5 linked regions of the Homo sapiens genome follow. The protein of the gene in region 3 purifies or fractionates together with the protein of the main gene of each other region. This does not show direct contact. Each region holds a gene or a part of one and is shown on either strand. Other genes may lie near its edges. The genes, in order: RPUSD2, LZTFL1, SH3GLB2, TBCD and THG1L.

Region 1 (3,169 bases), on a different chromosome or scaffold from region 3:
CCAGGCGCAGTGGCTCACGCCTGTAATCCCAACACTTTGGGAGGCCGAGGCGGGCAGATCACGAGGTCAGGAGATCGAGGTCATCCTGGCTAACACGGTGAAACCCCGTCTCTACTAAAAAAAAATACAAAAAATTAGCTGGGCGTGGTGGCGGGCACCTATAGTCCCAGCTACTCGGGAGGCTGAGGCAGGAGAATGGTGTGAACCCAAGAGGTGGAGCTTGCAGTGAGCCGAATCGCGCCACCGCACTCCAGCCTGGGTGACAGAGTGAGACTCTGTCTCAAAAAAAAAAAAAAAAACTTACCCTGGCATGGTGGCACATGCCTGTAGTCCCAGCTACTTGGGAGGCTGAGATAGGAGGATCACTTGGCCATGGGAGGTTGAGGCTGCAGTGAGCCATGAGCATGTCACTGCGTTCCAGCCTGAGCTATAGAACAAGACTCCGTCTCAAAGAAATAAATTAACATAAGAAAATAAAGTGCTGACAGGCTGAGCAAGGCTTTTAAGATTATGGGGAGAGCCTGCTTGGTGAAAAGATTCTAGATGTAGTTGGAAAAGTCTTGGGTAGAGGAGTTTAATGGTAATGATTGTTGTCCTGAGACTTGTAATTCTGGATCTGAATCATAATACATTTATTGAGTGCATGCTATATACCAGGCTTAGTATCAAGCACATTAGAGCCTAACTTACTGAATGCTTATCACAGCCCAATGAGGTAAATGCTTTTCTTTTCTTTTCTTTTTTTTTTTTTTTTTTTTTGAGATGGAGTTTCGCTCTTGTTGCCCAGTCTGGAGTGCAATGGTGTGATCCTGGCTCACTGCAACCTCCGCCTCCTGGGTTCAAGCAATTATCCTGCCTCAGCCTCCCAGGTAGCTGGGATGACTGGCATGCGCCACCACGCCTGGCTAATTTTGTATTTTTTAGTAGAGACGGGGTTTCTTCATGTTGGTCAGGCTGGTCTCGAACTTTCGACCTCAGGTGATCCACCCACCTCAGCTTCCCAAAGTGCTGGGATTACAGGCGTGAGCCACCTCACCCAGCTGGTAAATGCTTTTCTAATTTCACATTTTCTAGATGAGTTAGTAGGATTTAGAGGTTAAGTAATGTACCCAAGATCGCAAAACTGGCGAATGGTAGAGCTGGAGTTTGAATTTTCTGACACTGGTCCTTATCACTCCACAAAGAGTTTGGACTCCATGAATTTAGGCTTTGTACTGACTTTCTCCCTCTTCCCTCCTATGTAGCTGGAGAAGGAGTACGTGTGCCGGGTGGAAGGGGAGTTCCCCACTGAGGAAGTGACCTGTAAAGAACCCATCTTAGTGGTGTCTTACAAAGTAGGGGTGTGCCGTGTAGATCCCCGGGGCAAGCCCTGTGAGACAGTGTTCCAGAGGCTAAGCTACAATGGCCAGTCCAGTGTGGTACGGTGCCGGCCACTCACAGGCCGCACACACCAGATTCGAGTCCACCTTCAGTTCTTGGGCCATCCCATTCTCAACGACCCCATCTACAACTCAGTTGCCTGGGGTCCTTCTCGAGGCCGGGGCGGCTACATTCCCAAGACAAACGAGGAGTTGCTACGGGACCTGGTAGCAGAGCACCAGGCCAAACAGAGCCTGGATGTGCTAGATCTCTGTGAGGGTGACCTGTCCCCAGGACTCACAGACTCTACGGCCCCCTCCTCAGAGTTGGGCAAGGACGACCTGGAAGAGTTGGCTGCAGCTGCCCAGAAGATGGAGGAAGTAGCTGAGGCAGCCCCTCAGGAGTTGGACACAATAGCCTTGGCATCAGAGAAGGCAGTTGAAACAGATGTCATGAATCAAGAGACAGACCCACTCTGTGCAGAGTGCCGGCTGGTGCGACAGGATCCCTTGCCCCAAGACCTTGTGATGTTCCTACATGCCCTACGCTATAAAGGGCCAGGCTTTGAGTACTTTTCACCAATGCCTGCCTGGGCACAGGATGACTGGCAAAAGGACTGAGGGTGTGGCCAATGGAGGGATTGCTTCTTGGGTTGTGACAAGGATGGGCTATAGGGCAAGGGCTGACCCCATGGGCTAGTACTTGGGGTTTCTATAGGAATGAGGACGGGCTTCTAAAGAGACCTGCTCATACTTGCTACCTCCTTCCAGTGGGAATTTGGAGACTTTTTGGTTTGTAAATATATCCCTTTTTCTAACATCTTTGATGTCTGGTTTTCTTCCGGCTTCTTTTTTATTACTGATGTAAAATTCACATAACATAAAATTAACCACTTTAACTAGCCAGGCACAGTGGCTCATGGCTATAATCCTAGTACTTTGGGAGGTAGAAGTGAAAGGATCACTGGAGGCCAAGAGTTCAAGGTTAAAGTGAACTGTGATTGTGCTGCTGCACTCCAGAGCCTAGGTGACAGAGTGAGACCCTGTCTCTTAAAAAAAAAAAAAATTAACCAATTTAAGATGTACAGCGTAGTCACATTTAGTACATTCACAGTGTTGTACAACCATAACCTCATATATTTCCAAAACATTTTCATCACCCCAAAAGGAAACCTGTACCCATTAAGTAAGTGGTCACTTTCCACTCCCCTTCCACCAGCCTCTGGCAACCACTAATCTACTTTCTGTCTGTTTGGATTTGCCTGTTTATTCTGGACATTTTATATAAATGGAATGATAAAACATGTGACCTATGTCTCTGTTTCCCTTGGCATAATGTTTTCAAGGTTTATTCAACTTGTAGCATGTATCGGTACTTCATTCTTTTTTTATGGCAGAATAAGCTGTTGTATGGATATACCACGATTTGTCTATCTGTTCATCAGTTAATGGACATTTGGGTTGTTTCCACCATTTCATTATTGTGGATAGTGCTGCTGTGAACATTAAATATGTTTTCAGTTCTTTTGGGTATATACCTCACAGTGGAATTGCTGGGTCATATGGTAATTCTATGTTTAAATGTTTGAGAATCCACCAAACTTTTCCACAGCAGCTGAACCATTTTATATTGCCACCAGCAAGCATAGGGTTTCAATTTCTCTACATCTTCACCAACATTTGTTTTGTTTTGATTATAGTCATCCTAGTAGGAGTGAAGTGGCATCTCATTCTGGGTTGTTAGTCTTTTTGTTGTGGAGTGTAAGTGTTCTTTATATATTCTGGATGTGAGAGTCTTAGCAAAAAGACTA
Region 2 (3,518 bases), on a different chromosome or scaffold from region 3:
TCGGAGGCTGAGGCAGGAGAATGGCGTGAACCCGGGAGGTGGAGCTTGGAGTGAGCCTAGATCACGCCACCGCACTCCAGCCTGGGCGACAGAGCAAGACTCTGTCTCAAAAAAACAAACCAACAAACAACAATAAAAAACCCAAACTATTACATTTTTGAGGGCAAGGGAGCAGGTATTACACTGCTTTTTATTTCTAACAACATCTAGCATAATGTTGAGAATACAAGGGTCATGAAAAATAGCTGAAATCTGAAATGCTTCAACATCAGAAACTTTCTGAGTGCTGACATGATGCTCAAAGAAACTGCTCATTGGAGCATTTCAGATTTCAGATTTTTGGATTTGGGATGCTCAACTGGGGTCTGTATAATGCAAATATTCAAAAATCTGAAATCCAAAACACTTCTAGTCCCAAGGATAAGGGATACTCAACCTGTGCTGATAAATAATTTTTTTTTTTTTTTGAGATGGAGTCTCGCTCTGTCGCCCAGGCTAGAGTGCAGTGGCGTGATCTCAGCTCACTGCAACCTCTACCTCCCGGGTTCAAGCAATTCTCCTGCCTCAGCCTCCCGAGTAGCTCTGACTATAGGCACGTACCACCACACCCGGCTAATTGATAAATAATTTTTATAAACTTAAAAACCCTTCTCCTTGTTACCGCAGATCACAAACTTTAAATGTCCATCAATAAACGCTGTCCAAAATTTCATGCTCTTCACTTTACCTTGAAAAGGTGTGATCAGGAGCTACTTCAGGCTCTCTAGAAGGTTAAGTATGCCCTCTTCTGGCCCATGGGGTACCATCAAGTAAAACTACTGCAATGGACTAATTATCCTCAGAGGACCTGAAACAAACCTTCCACTTCTGTTTCTCCACCCTAGGCAATGACAGGACAGAATGAGAGACTTTCCGTTTCTCAAAATAATAATATTACCTTGTTTAGGAGTTCTGCTGTTCCACCTTCATTAAGTGGAGCAAGTTTTGGCTTTGTGACATCTAAGATGGGCTGAAACAAAATAAAGAAACCAAACTGAAATCACCACAGAATAAAGCATGTATAATCATTGAACACTTGCACTTTGCAAGTGGAAGATACTATATATAAACATATTCACTGCGATGTCAGTTCCACAGGTGTGGAGATTTCTGTTGGTTTCATCCTTTGTTACTCCCAGTGCCTAGGATATGCCTGTCCTACAGTGCCCCATACATGTTAGAGACAAAAATAAAACCTATCTTCCCTGTATCTTTTAAAAATATATAGATAGAAGGAAAATGAGGGAAGAAAGGAGGGACGGAAGGAGCTCAAAGCCAGATCTGATATAGAGCCTAGCATCTAGCAACTAGAATTTTAGCCTGTGGGAGCTGAAACAGTGATTTCTACATGAACCTTAGACTCTGTGAAAAACAATAATATTGATGAAGATCTAGGCAAGTATAATACAGATAAACAATAACTTGGCACAAATAATATAGTAGTTTAGTAATATATATTAAAAATAAAATAATTCATGCCCTCTGATCCAGAAATTTCTTAGCCATAAATATGACCCAAAGGAATAACTGGAAAGTATTTTGCATGTGTATGTACATAGATTCATCTCAGCAGTATTTATCCAACAATGGAGTATTTACGGTGTGCCCGTGAAGTGGAATGGTAAGTGGCCACTCCAATTAATGAGAATGATTAGAAAGAGAGGTAGATAACTACTAGTATTGTCTCCATTTGTCAGATGAGTAAAATGAAGCTCAGCTACCTCAGATAACCTGCTCAAGGTAACACAGCCAGGAAGTGACAGAGCCAGGATGTATACCCAGGTGTGGCTGACCCTACAGCCTGCGCTCTGAATCTTCTGAGTAGAGTATTTATGAGTGGGATTGAGACTGAACTTAGGGATCATGTGTATGTGTAAGCCATCACAGACAAAAGCAGTTTTTCACAGTTACTTCCAAAACATTTTTTCTTTTGCCTGAAAATATGATAGACAATTTCTGAATTTTACTCTTGAATTGAATGCTTTTCCTTAAGAGTTCTCAGTTTTGATCTCTGAATTCTTTGAGCAACTTGAGGATTTTAAATACTGGCTATTAAGATATGGATTTAGAATGACCAAAAAGTTACCTTTTTGTTTGAAGATGTAATCTCTGCTTTTTCAAATTCTGCAACTTGTTCTAATAATTCTCTTGAAGAAGAAAGCAAAGATAAAAATTATTCATTTAAAATAGATTTATATCACACGCAAGAAGAGTAAAATCACTGGTACCAACCCATTACATGCCAGAGAGAACAGAGCAAGATGGACCAAACTTCACCATATCAAAAATGTTAGTTGCAAATGGTTGAGAACCTAAACCACATGGACTCAAATGTAATCATCCACAGTACCTGGCATTTTGTATCTACTAGGTATGCAATATCTACTGCTAGAAATAAACCATAATGTTAATACAAATATGAGGAAAATTTATAGTCAACTTTGTATTCTTGAGGTGCTATGAGGAGACTGTTTTATTACATAATGTGTATTGTTAGCTAGTAGGTGTTCAAAAAAGATTCTTAATAAAGTAGTCTCAGAAAAATGAAAATAGTCCATAGTATCTACTGAAAAAGAGTACCACAAATTCCTAGGAAAGACAGATAGTGGGGGTGTGCCATCTGAAGATTTGCAAAGGCCAATGAGAAGTGACTACACACAAGCTTAGAGTGTTAACAGCAGTCAGCTTCTAAGCTTCTTAAAGCACCACCTTCTCAGAGTTTTCTCACCAGTCATCTACTGACAGTGGCAGAAGTTCAATGATTTTCCTCCCCAGCTCATAGGTTGTCCTCAGCGTTGTTCAACACTCTGCATGTGAACTGATGTGCTGTGACTGTGCTTAGAGTAGTTCACGGGGCTTGGCGGTCAGTCCTTCCTGATTTCTGGCATGCTTTTTCTTAAAATGAGTTTCAACTTCACCAATTTTACCATATTTTTTGAATTTGAGCTCTTAGATGTCCATATTATAAGCTTTTTTGTATATTTCCTATTTCAAAGTTAATAAATGTATACTTTTAAATTCCATTATTTAGAAAACTTCCAATGCTACTGGATTGAATTGATGGTATTTATTATATTTGAATTGACTTTTCAACTGTCTCATAATCTCTATTTCTTAGTTGACCAATCTATAAAGACTGATGGTAATACTGACCAAGCTAACAAAAATGCTGTAAGAAATAATTAATGATAGCCTGAAAAGCAATTTCATAAATCTCGATGGCCTTTGTAATACCTAGGAACAGTAGAAACAGAGAACTTTTAAAAGGGTGCTTAGTGGTACCCAAGAGATCACTCAGTGACTCAATGCTTTGCTGTTACCCTACCCAAATTTCCTCACACACTAGCCCCAAGAAAATATGCAGCCAAAGATGTTCACTAACTTTTAAGATTATGCTTGGGCCATTATTGTCACAGTTGCAAGTTCAAATTTTATTACCGGTTTTCAAGTTCAGAGATGTCTGTCTGTAGCTTAAGATA
Region 3 (4,101 bases):
ACAGTCACCCAACCTTTGATCTCCTCCTCTCACCACACAGGGGGCTCCAGGCCCCAGCTCCAGAACCCCCTCCCTTCCCGTGACCGCCACCCCAACCCTCCTCCAATTTGGGGAAGCCACAGGGCCTCCCAGGCTGACAAACAGCTGTTCCAGCGGTGGAGGGCAAGTCCCAAGCCTGACTCCGGCTCAGTCACCAAGGTCAGGGCAGAAGAGAGGAGGAGAGGTCAGAGAGGAGGAGTAACGGGAGGAAACCCAAGGGAAACAGAGTGGAAGAAATGGGAATGGGAGGGAGGGGGTGTGAATAAAGAGCGGAGATGAAGAGGCACAAACAGGGGAGAGGCAGCAGGCCTGGGTGGTGGGAGGAGAAAGCAAGAGAGGCCCATTTTAGAGATCTGTTGCACATATTGGTGACTACTCAGTCACTTAGTGACTTTGGGAGACTGAGGCAGGCAGATTGCCTGAGATCAGGAGTTCAAGACCACCCTGGGCAACATGGCAAAACCTTGTCTCTCCTAAAGTACAAAAAATTAGCGGGGCATGTTGGTGGGCGCCTGTAGTCCCAGCTACTCGGGAGGCTGAATGAAGCAGGAGAATCGCTTGAGCCCGGCAGGTGGAGGCTGCAGTGAGCCGAGATCGCGCCACTGCACTCCAGCCTGGGCGACAGAGCAAGACTCTGTCTACAAAAAAAAAAAAAAAGTATTGCATATTTCAAAATTGCTAAAAGAGTACATTTGAAATGTTCTAACCACAAAAAAAGTAGGTGAGGTGATGGATATGTCAATTAACTTGATTTCATCATTCCACAATTTCATCACCTTGTAGGCCGTAAATATATATTTATCAATTAAAACTTTTGAAAAGCATTGGTAAGATGGCAAATAATATGTAATTATGGCGTGTACCTGCAATCATCTAAGAGCACATGTGTTCCAGTTTTAATAATTTTAGTAAAAGGAAAAAAAGAGGCCGGCCCAATCCGCGGCGGCAGGCGCATGGGGGCAGCAGCGAGCACTGCCCAGCAGCGAGCCCTGCCCAGCACAACCTGCTCCCCAGACCAACCCCCGCTCTGGCCGCGCCAAGGCCTCGCCCCCACCCATGTAGCTCCGCCCCACTGCCCTCTCGCTCCGCCCCTGTCCCGCCAGTCCCGCCCCCTCCGACTCCGCCCGGCTTCCGCCAACCAGCCCGGCCCCCGCCCCTCTAGCTCCGCCCCACTGCCGTCCCGTCCCGCCCCGGCACCGCCAGCTCCGCCCCCGCCCCTCTGGCTCCGACCCGCGGCCTCCGCGCCCCGCCCTGCGCGCTCGGGCTGGCTCGGCGGCTGCGGCGGGCGGGCAGGCGGGCAGGCCGGCAGGCGGGTGCGCGGAGGGCTGGTGCCCCGCAGCAGGTGGGCGGGGTGCGGTTGGCGGCGGCGGCTGGGCCGGGGGCTGCCGGCTGCGCTCGGGCCGTGCGCGGCGGCCGTGCGGGCACGCCATGGACTTCAACATGAAGAAGCTGGCGTCGGACGCGGGCATCTTCTTCACCCGGGCGGTGCAGGTGAGGCCTGGCGTCGCGCCGTGCGCCGGGGGCCCGGATGTGCGGCGGGCGGGGAGCACCCTGCGGCAGACGCCTGGGGACGCGGGAAAGCCCTCCCGGGCTGCTGCCCTCGTCCCCGCCGCGGCACACCTCTGCCCCCCTGAGCCCTTGCTGACCGGAAGAGGGAAAGAGCCCGTGCGGCCCGAGCCGGGCCTTGGCCCTGCTGCCTGGGGCGAGGCACCGGTGCCCACCCTTTGGGCTGGTTGGGTTACCCTGCTCCCCTGGCGCCTGCCTGGCTGAGGAGGGGAGGAGGCACCGGCTGGGTGCTACCTCCCTGCCCTTGTCCAGCAGTGACTGGCGCCTGGCGGGGCATTTAGCGACCTGGGTCCCAGGCCCAGGGACTCATGCGTCCACCACAACCCCTTCTCCGAGCCTCAGTCTCCGCACCTGTGCAATGGGCGGCTGGTGCCATGAGTCCCTCATGGCCATTTCACACGTTTGGATAGTCAGGCCGGAAGCCAGGAGTTGTTTCTTTTCTGCTCCACGGGAGGTCTGTTTCCTTGGTCCCTGGGCCTGGGGGATGGAGAGAGGGCTGGGGTCTGGCTGGGAAGCTGTCCAGGCCCACGATGCTGAGATTGGAAGAAGTCCTATCCGTTTAGGGGCAGAGAGTAACAGGCAACTCAACATCATGGGAAGACCTAGGGTCAGGTGTGGGTGGGAATGTGCCCTCCTGTGACCTTGGGGGAGGGGCCTTCATCTCACTGGGCCTCAGTTTCTCAGTCTGAAAAATGGGATCAGTATTCCTGCCTCCCAGGACAGATGCGAGGATTCTGTGGGACTCTGCATATGTGTGCTCACCAAAGGCAAGCTCATTATTGGTGTCAAAGTGGTTAATATTGCACCTGTGCAGCATGTGACCTTGGACAAGTCACTTCTCTCAGAGCCCCGCCCTCCCCTTCTGTAAATCTGGTGTAACACCGTGGTTATGGGATTCAGTGGGATTCCGCAGGCCCGGGGCTGGCCCATCCCAGGGTTCTGGGAGCAGGTCCTGTAGTCTTGTCTTTGTCGTTGTCGTTGTCATCGTTGTTGTTTCTGTTGAGTACAGTTCTCTCCCCACCCCCAACCCGGGCACTCCCCTCCCCAGGAGCCCACACCCAGCCAGCAACCCATGTAGTCATGTTTACTAGAAGGTGCTGTGTCCCGCTGAGGATTAGCATCCCAGCGAGAATTCACTGCTTAATGTGTTCCAAGTCTGGTGGGCAGCCCCAGCCCTAGTGGAGATGCCAGGATCCCAGAGCCCCTCGGATTGGACGGCCCCAGTCCATCTGGGAGGGGGGAACCCACTCTGCTGTTGGTATGGCAACCACACTATCTCCCACATCTGGGAAGAACCTGATCTGCCAGTTCCCTGCTAGGGCTGGGGCCCTGCTGCCTGACCTGGCCAGGGCTCTCAGGACCTAGGCAGGGCAGGGCCTAGGTGTGGCTCCGCTTGGTGGGAGCTGCCCCACAGGGTCACTGTTACTGGAGTGGGAGCCAGCAGTCAGGCCCCAGCCTCGGGGTGGGAGGGAGGGAGCTGAGAGCTTTATAAATAGAGGCTTTCTCTGCTCTGCACGCCCACCCCACTGCTGCCATTTTCCCGGGAGCAGCCTCGGACTCCAGCACCAAACCCCTTCCTCTTGGCAGGATTGGGGCAGAGTGGCAGGCCAGGGGATAGAGAGGCCTGAAATGTGACCTGGCAGGAGAGGCCACAGAGGGGCTCCGCCTGAGACCAAGCTGGCCTGGATGGGAGACAGTCAGGAGGGATGGGAGAGGGGTTCTTTATGATCAATACATGTGATGGGCTCAGGAACCTCCCAGTCCCTGCAGGTACAAGAAACAACTTTAAGAGCCTCCCCGATCCAGCAAGGAACAAGGCCTTGGCCCTGAGATGAGGATCCAGAGGGCAGGATCCCTTTTGTATGGGTCATTCTGGGATGGTCTCCTGCATGGAGGGCCCCTGAACTGTGCTCAGAAAGTAGGGAGGGGCTCATGATGTTGGTCCAAGTGGCAGGAGCAGCCCAGATAAGGGCACCGAGGCAAGAAAACCTAAGGCAGATTTGGACAAGATGCCAGTGGGGGTGGGAGAGGGCAGGAGGAGTGATAGTACTAATACTATTAGTAGTAATTGCAGTAACAGTAATAGTAGTGGTAGAAGTAATACTTATAAAGTCCAGAGAGGTGGTGGCATCGTCATCATGGAGCTAGGCAGACTGCAGTGGACATGGGATGGATGCCGTCTAGTTTGGGAAAGCCTGGTAGAACTTCTCACCTGGGCAGATGTGGCCTGTAAGGGAGGGCGGGGTGGGGAGTGCTGCTCTGAACCTTGGTAAGGAGGGGAGGTGTTGAGGTGCACATTTAGGGTGATGCCCTTGGTACCATCAGGGTAGCTCCTGAGAGCTGAGGAGGGATGTGAGGGAGGCCTGCCTGCCTGCCTGCCTGCCTGCCTGCCTTCCTTCCTTCCTCCCTTAGTCCCTCTCTCCTTTCTTCTTTCCTTCCTTTTTTTTTTTTGAGACAGAGTCTCATCCTGTCGCCGAGGCTGGAGTGCAGTGGCAC
Region 4 (3,518 bases), on a different chromosome or scaffold from region 3:
AAAGTAGCATTATTAATAACAGCCAAAAACCGGAAACAACTCAAATGTCCATCAACAGATAAAAGAAGAAACAACCCCAGCACTTTGGAAGGCTGAGGCGGGCGGATCACGAGGTCAGGAGATCGAGACCATCCTGGTTAACAAGGTGAAACCCCGTCTCTACTAAAAATAAAAAAAAAATTAGCTGGGTGTGTTGGCGGGCACCCGTAGTCCCAGCTACTCGGGAGGCTGAGGCAGGAGAATGGCGTGAACCCGGGTGGCAGAGCTTGCAGTGAGCCGAGATCGCACCACTGCACTCCACCGCACTCCAGCCTGGGCAACAGACCAAGACTCCATCTCAAAAAAAAAAAAGAAGAAACAAATTGTGATTTATCAGCACGAGAGAAAACGTACAAACTACTGATACACACACCAACAATGGTAAGTCCCGGAGATGTTATTTTAACAACGGAAGACAAAAAGAGCACATACTGAATGATTCTAGAACAGGCAAAACTAATGAACAGTACCATTAACCAACAGTGGTTCCCTAGGGCTGGGGTGAGGGGACTGACAGCAAAAGGACATCAAGTAACTCCTTGGGATGACAGAAATGTTCCATATCTTGATAGCGCGGGGTGTATACATTTACCGAAACTCAAACATCTTACTAAAATGGGTGCATTTTATAGTAGGTAAATTTTAAACTCAATAAAATTAAAACTCAATAAAATGTTCTAAGAATAAAAATTTATAATCGTGGATAAAGAGTAGCATTATTTACAAACCATATAATATTTACCTGCTAAGAAAACCCAGAAGAAACAACTGGCCGGGCACGGTGGCTCACGCCTGTAATCCCAGCACTTTGGGAGGCCGAGGCAGGTGGATCACCTGAGGTCAGGAGTTCAAGACAAGCCTGGCCATCATGGTGAAACCCTGTCTCTACTCAGAATACAAAAATTGGCCAGGCTAATTTTACAGGTGGCGCCTGTAATCCCAGCTACTCAGGAGGCTGAGGCAGGAGAATCGCTTGAACCCAGGAGAAGGAGGTTGCAGTGAGCCAAGATCACGCCATTACACTCCAGCCTGGGTGACAGAGCAAGACTTTGTCTCCAAAAAAAAAAAAAGACTGAAAAACTATTGAAGTAAACATTTCATCACACAGTGAACCTCATAGACATGATGCTAAGTGAAAAAAGCCAGTGCCAAAAGACCTCCTACTGCATGATTCCATCACACAAAATGCTGAATACACACAAACCCAGAGCCAGATGAGTGGTTACTGCGGAAGCAGAGAATGGGAAGGAATTGTTGATGGGAGTTGGGTTGCTTCAGATGATGAAAATGCCTAGATTGTGGTAGTGATAGTTACACAACTCTGTAATACACTAATACACTAACACTAAAATGTATATTTAGAAGAGTGAACTCTATAGTATGTAATTATATCCCTATAAAGATGTTAAGAAATGTATGTTTACACATACATATTCCATTACAGTGTTGCCATTTACAAAAACAGTATACAAAACATATCTTCACTAGACATCAGCAATAACTAGTTAGAACACATAACAAATAGTTTCACAAGAGCAATAAAAGACAAAACATACCTAGAAATAAACCTAAAAAAAAGTCTCCAGGAATCATCTAAAGAAAATCACCAACCTTCACTGAGGAACACAAAAGATGTGAATAATTAGAGACATAATACCATGATCTTAGACATGAAAATTAAATCTTAGAAAGACTTCTCCCCTACATGAATTTGTGAATTTAATAGAATTCCAAAGGGTGGAGAGTGATAAAATAATTCCGGAGTTCATCCGCATTAATGAACGGGCTACAAAACCATCAAGAAAATAAGAGGAAAGGATGCCAGGCAAAATATAAACTAACATCAAACAAAATGACCCAGGCCAGGCGTGGTGGCTCACGCCTCTAATTCCAGCACTTTGGGAGGCCAAGGCGGGCAGACTGCTTGAGGTCAGGAGTTCGAGACTATCCTGGCCAACATGATGAAAACCGTTCTCTACTAAAAATACAAAAATTAGCCAGGCGTGGTGGCACATGCTACTCGGGAGGCTGAGGCAGGAGAATCTCTTGAACCTGGGAGGCGGAGGTTGCAGTAAGCCAAGAACACGCCACTGCACTCCAGCCTGGGTGACAGAGCGAGACTCCATCTCAAAAAAAAAAAAAAAACAAACAAACGAAATGACCCAGAAAAAAGAGCATACAGATAGGTCAATGGAACAGGATAAAAAATCTAAAAGCAAAGGCTAATATATTTGAATATTTAATATAGATTTAAAATGGCATTTCAAGTAGGGGAGAGGCCACTAAATCATCCAATAAATGAGGCTTACATAACTGATTAGGAAAAATAAACTTTCTAACCGTACTACCAAAGGCCAAACACAAAGAAACTGATAGTTTGACAAGCTAAATATTTCTAAAACTTCAGTAGAGACTGGGTGCAGTGGCTCACACCTGTCATCCCAGCACTGTGGGAGGCCAAGGCAGGATTGCTTGGGGCCAGAAGTTCGAGACCAGCCTGAGGAACACAGCGTGACCCTGACCCTGCAAAAACAAAATTTTTTTTTTTTTGAGACAGTCTGGCTCTGTAGCCCACGCTGGAGTGCAGTGGCACGATCTCGTTCACTGCTACCTCCGCGTCCTGGGTCCCAGTTCAAGCAATTCTCCTGCCTCGGCCTCTCAAGTAGCTGGGATTACAGGCATGCTTCACCATGCCCAGCTAATTTTTGTATTTTTAGTAGAGACAGGGTTTCACCATGTTGGTCAGGCTGGTCTTGAACTCCTGACCTTGTAATCCACCCGCCTCGGCCTCCCAAAGTGCTAGGATCAGAGGCATGAGCTACTGCGCCTGGCCAAAAAAAAAAGTTTTTTAATTAACTAGGCATGGCAGCTTGTGCCTGTTGTCCCAGCTCTGCAGGAGGCTGAAGTGAGAAGATCACTTAATCCCAGGAGCTCAAGGCTGCAGTGAGCTATGACTGCGCCACTACACTCCAGCCTGGGTGACAGAGCGAGATCCCATCTCTTTAAAAAAACAAACACGAAAAAACTTCAGTAGATAAAATACACCAGACACAATATTAAAAGGCAAAAGCAGGCCGGGCACAATGGCTCACACCTGTAATCCCAGCACTTTGGGAGACCAAGGTGGGCAGATCACGTGGGGGTCAGGAGTTTGAGACCAGCCTGGCCAACATGGTGAAACCCTGTCTCTACTAAAAATGCAAAAAATTAGCCAGGCGTGGTAGCACACGCCTGTAATCCCAGCTACGCTGGAGGCTGAGGCAGGAGAATCGCTTGAACCCTGGAGGCAGAAGTTGCAGTGAGCCAAGATTGGGCCACTATACTCCAGCCTGGGCAACAGAGAGACTACATCTCAAAAAAAAAAAAAAAAAAGAAAAAAAAAAAAGCAAAAGGGTGGAAAAATGTGCAACAAATGACAAAGGACCAGCATCCCACGACTACATTTTCCTTTTTCTAAAAAGGAATTCCAGAAAATAATG
Region 5 (3,518 bases), on a different chromosome or scaffold from region 3:
CAAAATCTCATTCTTGTCTGCTGCAAGAGTTCCCTGAGAAAATAAAAATAGATATTAAAAGCTCTGCATGTCTTCTTTCTCCCCTAGTGCTACTATCCATTCGACCCACAACCTAAATTTCCACAATCAAGAAGTGGAAGGATTTTATCAAACATCTTATAGTTATTAGTAAATTTTCATCTTAAGGGCAATTATGATCTTACTTAGATAAAATTCTCTCCTATACCAAACACTGGCTTCACAAGTCAAGACTGAAAGGGAGTGGGGAGAATTAATACTAACTGAATACATATTATGTATTTGGTCCAGTAAAACTTAGAAAGGTTATATAAATTCCCCAAGGTTAAAAGGTTGTCCTTATTCTTCTACGAAGAATTGAAATCTGAACTTGACTCTTCCAAACCTGGATATACCTACCAGTATGCCTTTTTTTTTTTTAGACAAAGTCTCACTCTGTTGCCCAGGTTGGAGTGCAGTGGTGCAATCTCAGCTCACTGCAACTGCCACCTCCCAGGTTCAAGCGATTCTCATGCCTCAGCCTCCTGAGTCGCTGGGATTACAGGTGTGTGCCAGCACACCCAGCTAATTTTTGTAGAGAAGCGGTCTCACCATGTTGGCCAGGCTGGTCTTGAACTCCTGACGTCAGGTGATCCACCTACCTTGGCCTCCTCAGAGTGCTGGGATTACATGCGTGAACCACCACACCAGGCCCCAGTTTTCCTATTATTGCTATATAAAAATCTCTATCATTACTATTATTAAAAATGACAACCATTTATTGAGCAAACATAATGTACCAGGCATTGTATTAGTAACTGTTACAGCTGGGCACAGTGGCATGCACCTGTAATCCCAGCTACTTGGGAGGCTGAGGTGGGCGGACTGCTGGAGCCCAGGAGTTCAAGACCAGCCTGGGGAAAATAGCAAGAACCCATCTCAAAAAATAAATAAATAGATAAAATAAAATACAAATAAAAGATCTGTTACAACACATTACCTCACTTCACAGTTAGTCATCCTACAAGTAGCACTGTTATAACAAAAACCAGTATTTATTAAGCACTTACAATGTGCTTCATACGATTCTGTGTTTTACGTGCATCATGCCATTTAATTCTCACCATAAACCTATGAGGTAGAAACTACTATTTTCTACATTTTACCTATAAAGAACTGAGGCAGAAAGGATAAAATTACACAGAAGCATGATGTGAGTAGTTATTATGACATTTATGAAAGTAACAAACTCAGCACGAACTCTTCCTATACACAGAGGTCATAAACCCAAGAAACTACAGGTGCCCAGCAGGGAAAATGGCAATGAGGGAAGAGGCGTGGTGGGACTGACAAAAATTCAGTGCTGGCCAGGTGTGGTGGCTCACTGGCTCACGCCTGTAATCCCAGCACTCTGGGAGGCCCAGGCAGGCAGATCACTTCAGGTCAGGAGTTCAAGACCAGCCTGGCCAACGGGGTGAAACCCTGTCTCTACTAAAAATACAAAAATTAGCTGGGTGTGGTGGCATGCACCTGTAATCCCAGCTACTTGGGAGGCTGAGGCACGAGAATCGCTTGAGCACAGGAGGTGGAGGTTGCAATCAGCTGAGATCACACCACTGTACTGCAGCCTGGGCAACAGAGTGAAACTGTGTCTCAAAAAAAAAAAAAAAAGTCAGTGCTGAAGACGGCAGTCATACACAGTCATACACGGCTTCAGGCAAGTGTTAGCACGTGGGAATGCAGAGCCAGTGCCGTCAATTCCATTTTCCACTAAGAACACAAAGGCTCAGGGAGAAGCAGTAATTCATCCAGGATTACAGACCAAGCAGGCAGCAGAGCTGCTCCTATTATGATTTTTATATCCTTTCAAAACAAAGCTGTACAGGGATCTTAAAAGAAAGAAATGTAAATTTAACAAAAAAAAAGTTATGGGAGAGCCTACAGCGAACTGTCCCCAGTTAAGTATTAATGTAGTAAGATCTTTATACCTGTAATCTCCCTTGGGCTTGTACTGGTGTTAGTCCAGATTGTTGTATAAGTGCCCAGAAAACTGTATTATAAAGATTATTGATGTGACCTGTGAGGAGAACAAAATAGTAATGTTTATATACATAAAATCTTTATTGAATATTCATTCTTCAAGGAATACTAGAGCCCTGACCCTCTCCTCTTTCATAGTAAAGAGATCTCAGAGACATTCAGTGACTTGACCGAAGTCCTACACACGGAACATGGAGGGAAGGAGCAGTAGGGAAAAAACTTCATCCCTAACAACAGTTTTATTTGGTCATTTCAGTTACACATTATACAAATCTGTTAACTTGTGTGTTAATCCTAGGAATACTTTAGAAGTTATTTGATTTATATTATTTCAATCTCTTTTCCAGTTCTTCTGGAAAATTCAAACTAGAACAAGCAAGTAAAAGCCTCACAAACATCATCACAGTCACATAAGGCAAGGGTCACAATTCAAATACCCACTGAGGCCAGCATGAACATAAATGTGTAAAGCAGTGGGTGACCCCAGAGGAACAACAGGGAATGGCAGAGACTATGGCACACTGGCATTTGTGTGTGTGTGTGTGTGTAAAGGTAGCTGCCACTGAACAGGCTTTGTCTAGTACTAAGTAAGAATGCAGATCCAGTATTGCCACATCTGATTTTTTTAAAAAATAGAGATAAGGCGGCTGGGCGTGGTGGCTCACGCCTATAATCCCAGCACTTTGGGAGGCCAAGGCGGGTGGATCACCTGAGGTCAGGAGTTCAAGACCAGCCTGACCAACATGGAGAAACCCCATTTCTACTAAAAAATACAGAATCAGCCGGGCGTGGTGGCACATGCCTGTAATCCCAGCTACTCGGGAGGCTGAGGCAGAAGAATCCCATGAACCCAGGAGGTGGAGGTTGCAGTGAGCCAAGATGACACCACTGCATTCCAGCCTGGGCAACAAGAGCGAAACTCTGTCTTAAAAAAAAAAAAAAATAGAGATAAGGAGTTTTTACGTAAAATTTAATTTTTCAAATACTTTTAACTAATTGAAAAAATATTTAAATACTGCATTCTGTACAACGTATATGTTGAAACAAAGTATATGTGAGCCAATCCTGTATCAGATCAACACCTGTAAGACATGGAATTGGTGGTTTAACTACATGTGTTTATTTGGTGCCACTCACAATCTGCTTGTCGCCAGCTGAGGTAGTCCTTTAAAGTCTGGTTGCTGGGATACACCACGACTCTTCCGTCAAAGCCTGGGGGATACAGAAGGGGCTGGTCCTCAAAGTAATCCCGCCAATAAAACACATAGCTGGAGGCAAACTGGGAGGCCACGTGAGTCATGAACTTACTTGAAAATGTAACGCACATTGGGTGGAGTAAGAAAAAGAAAAATACACGGAATTAGTTCAACACCATGATAAGACCTGTGGGTACCACAGAGAGTACACAAACTGCCCAGAAAGCCAGGAGATAAAATGCATTTGGCTAAGAAACACTATTTTAATACCTTGGTTCTGTATTT

What was found.
Region 1: the proteins of SH3GLB2 (region 3) and RPUSD2 fractionate together in Homo sapiens (co-fractionation; one large-scale study listed by BioGRID). This does not show direct contact.
Region 2: the proteins of SH3GLB2 (region 3) and LZTFL1 fractionate together in Homo sapiens (co-fractionation; one large-scale study listed by BioGRID). This does not show direct contact.
Region 4: the proteins of SH3GLB2 (region 3) and TBCD fractionate together in Homo sapiens (co-fractionation; one large-scale study listed by BioGRID). This does not show direct contact.
Region 5: the proteins of SH3GLB2 (region 3) and THG1L fractionate together in Homo sapiens (co-fractionation; one large-scale study listed by BioGRID). This does not show direct contact.

The regions. Positions count from the first base shown.
Region 1 is NC_000015.10:40,572,283-40,575,451, forward strand, and holds the end of RPUSD2 (pseudouridylate synthase RPUSD2), read left to right. Parts: intron 1-1,244; coding exon 1,245-1,979; 3' UTR 1,980-2,667; downstream 2,668-3,169. UniProt on the Homo sapiens protein: Pseudouridine synthase that catalyzes pseudouridylation of mRNAs.
Region 2 is NC_000003.12:45,832,113-45,835,630, forward strand, and holds part of LZTFL1 (leucine zipper transcription factor-like protein 1), read right to left. Parts: coding exon 3,478-3,518; intron 2,187-3,477; coding exon 2,126-2,186; intron 1,010-2,125; coding exon 938-1,009; intron 1-937. UniProt on the Homo sapiens protein: Regulates ciliary localization of the BBSome complex. Together with the BBSome complex, controls SMO ciliary trafficking and contributes to the sonic hedgehog (SHH) pathway regulation. May play a role in neurite outgrowth. May have tumor suppressor function.
Region 3 is NC_000009.12:129,025,521-129,029,621, reverse strand, and holds the start of SH3GLB2 (endophilin-B2), read left to right. Parts: upstream 1-1,290; 5' UTR 1,291-1,467; coding exon 1,468-1,530; exon of another isoform or gene 1,531-1,963; coding exon of another isoform or gene 1,964-2,059; intron 2,060-4,101.
Region 4 is NC_000017.11:82,758,555-82,762,072, reverse strand, and holds part of TBCD (tubulin-specific chaperone D), read right to left. Parts: intron 1-3,518.
Region 5 is NC_000005.10:157,734,402-157,737,919, reverse strand, and holds part of THG1L (probable tRNA(His) guanylyltransferase), read right to left. Parts: intron 3,345-3,518; coding exon 3,175-3,344; intron 2,075-3,174; coding exon 1,986-2,074; intron 34-1,985; coding exon 1-33. UniProt on the Homo sapiens protein: Adds a GMP to the 5'-end of tRNA(His) after transcription and RNase P cleavage. This step is essential for proper recognition of the tRNA and for the fidelity of protein synthesis.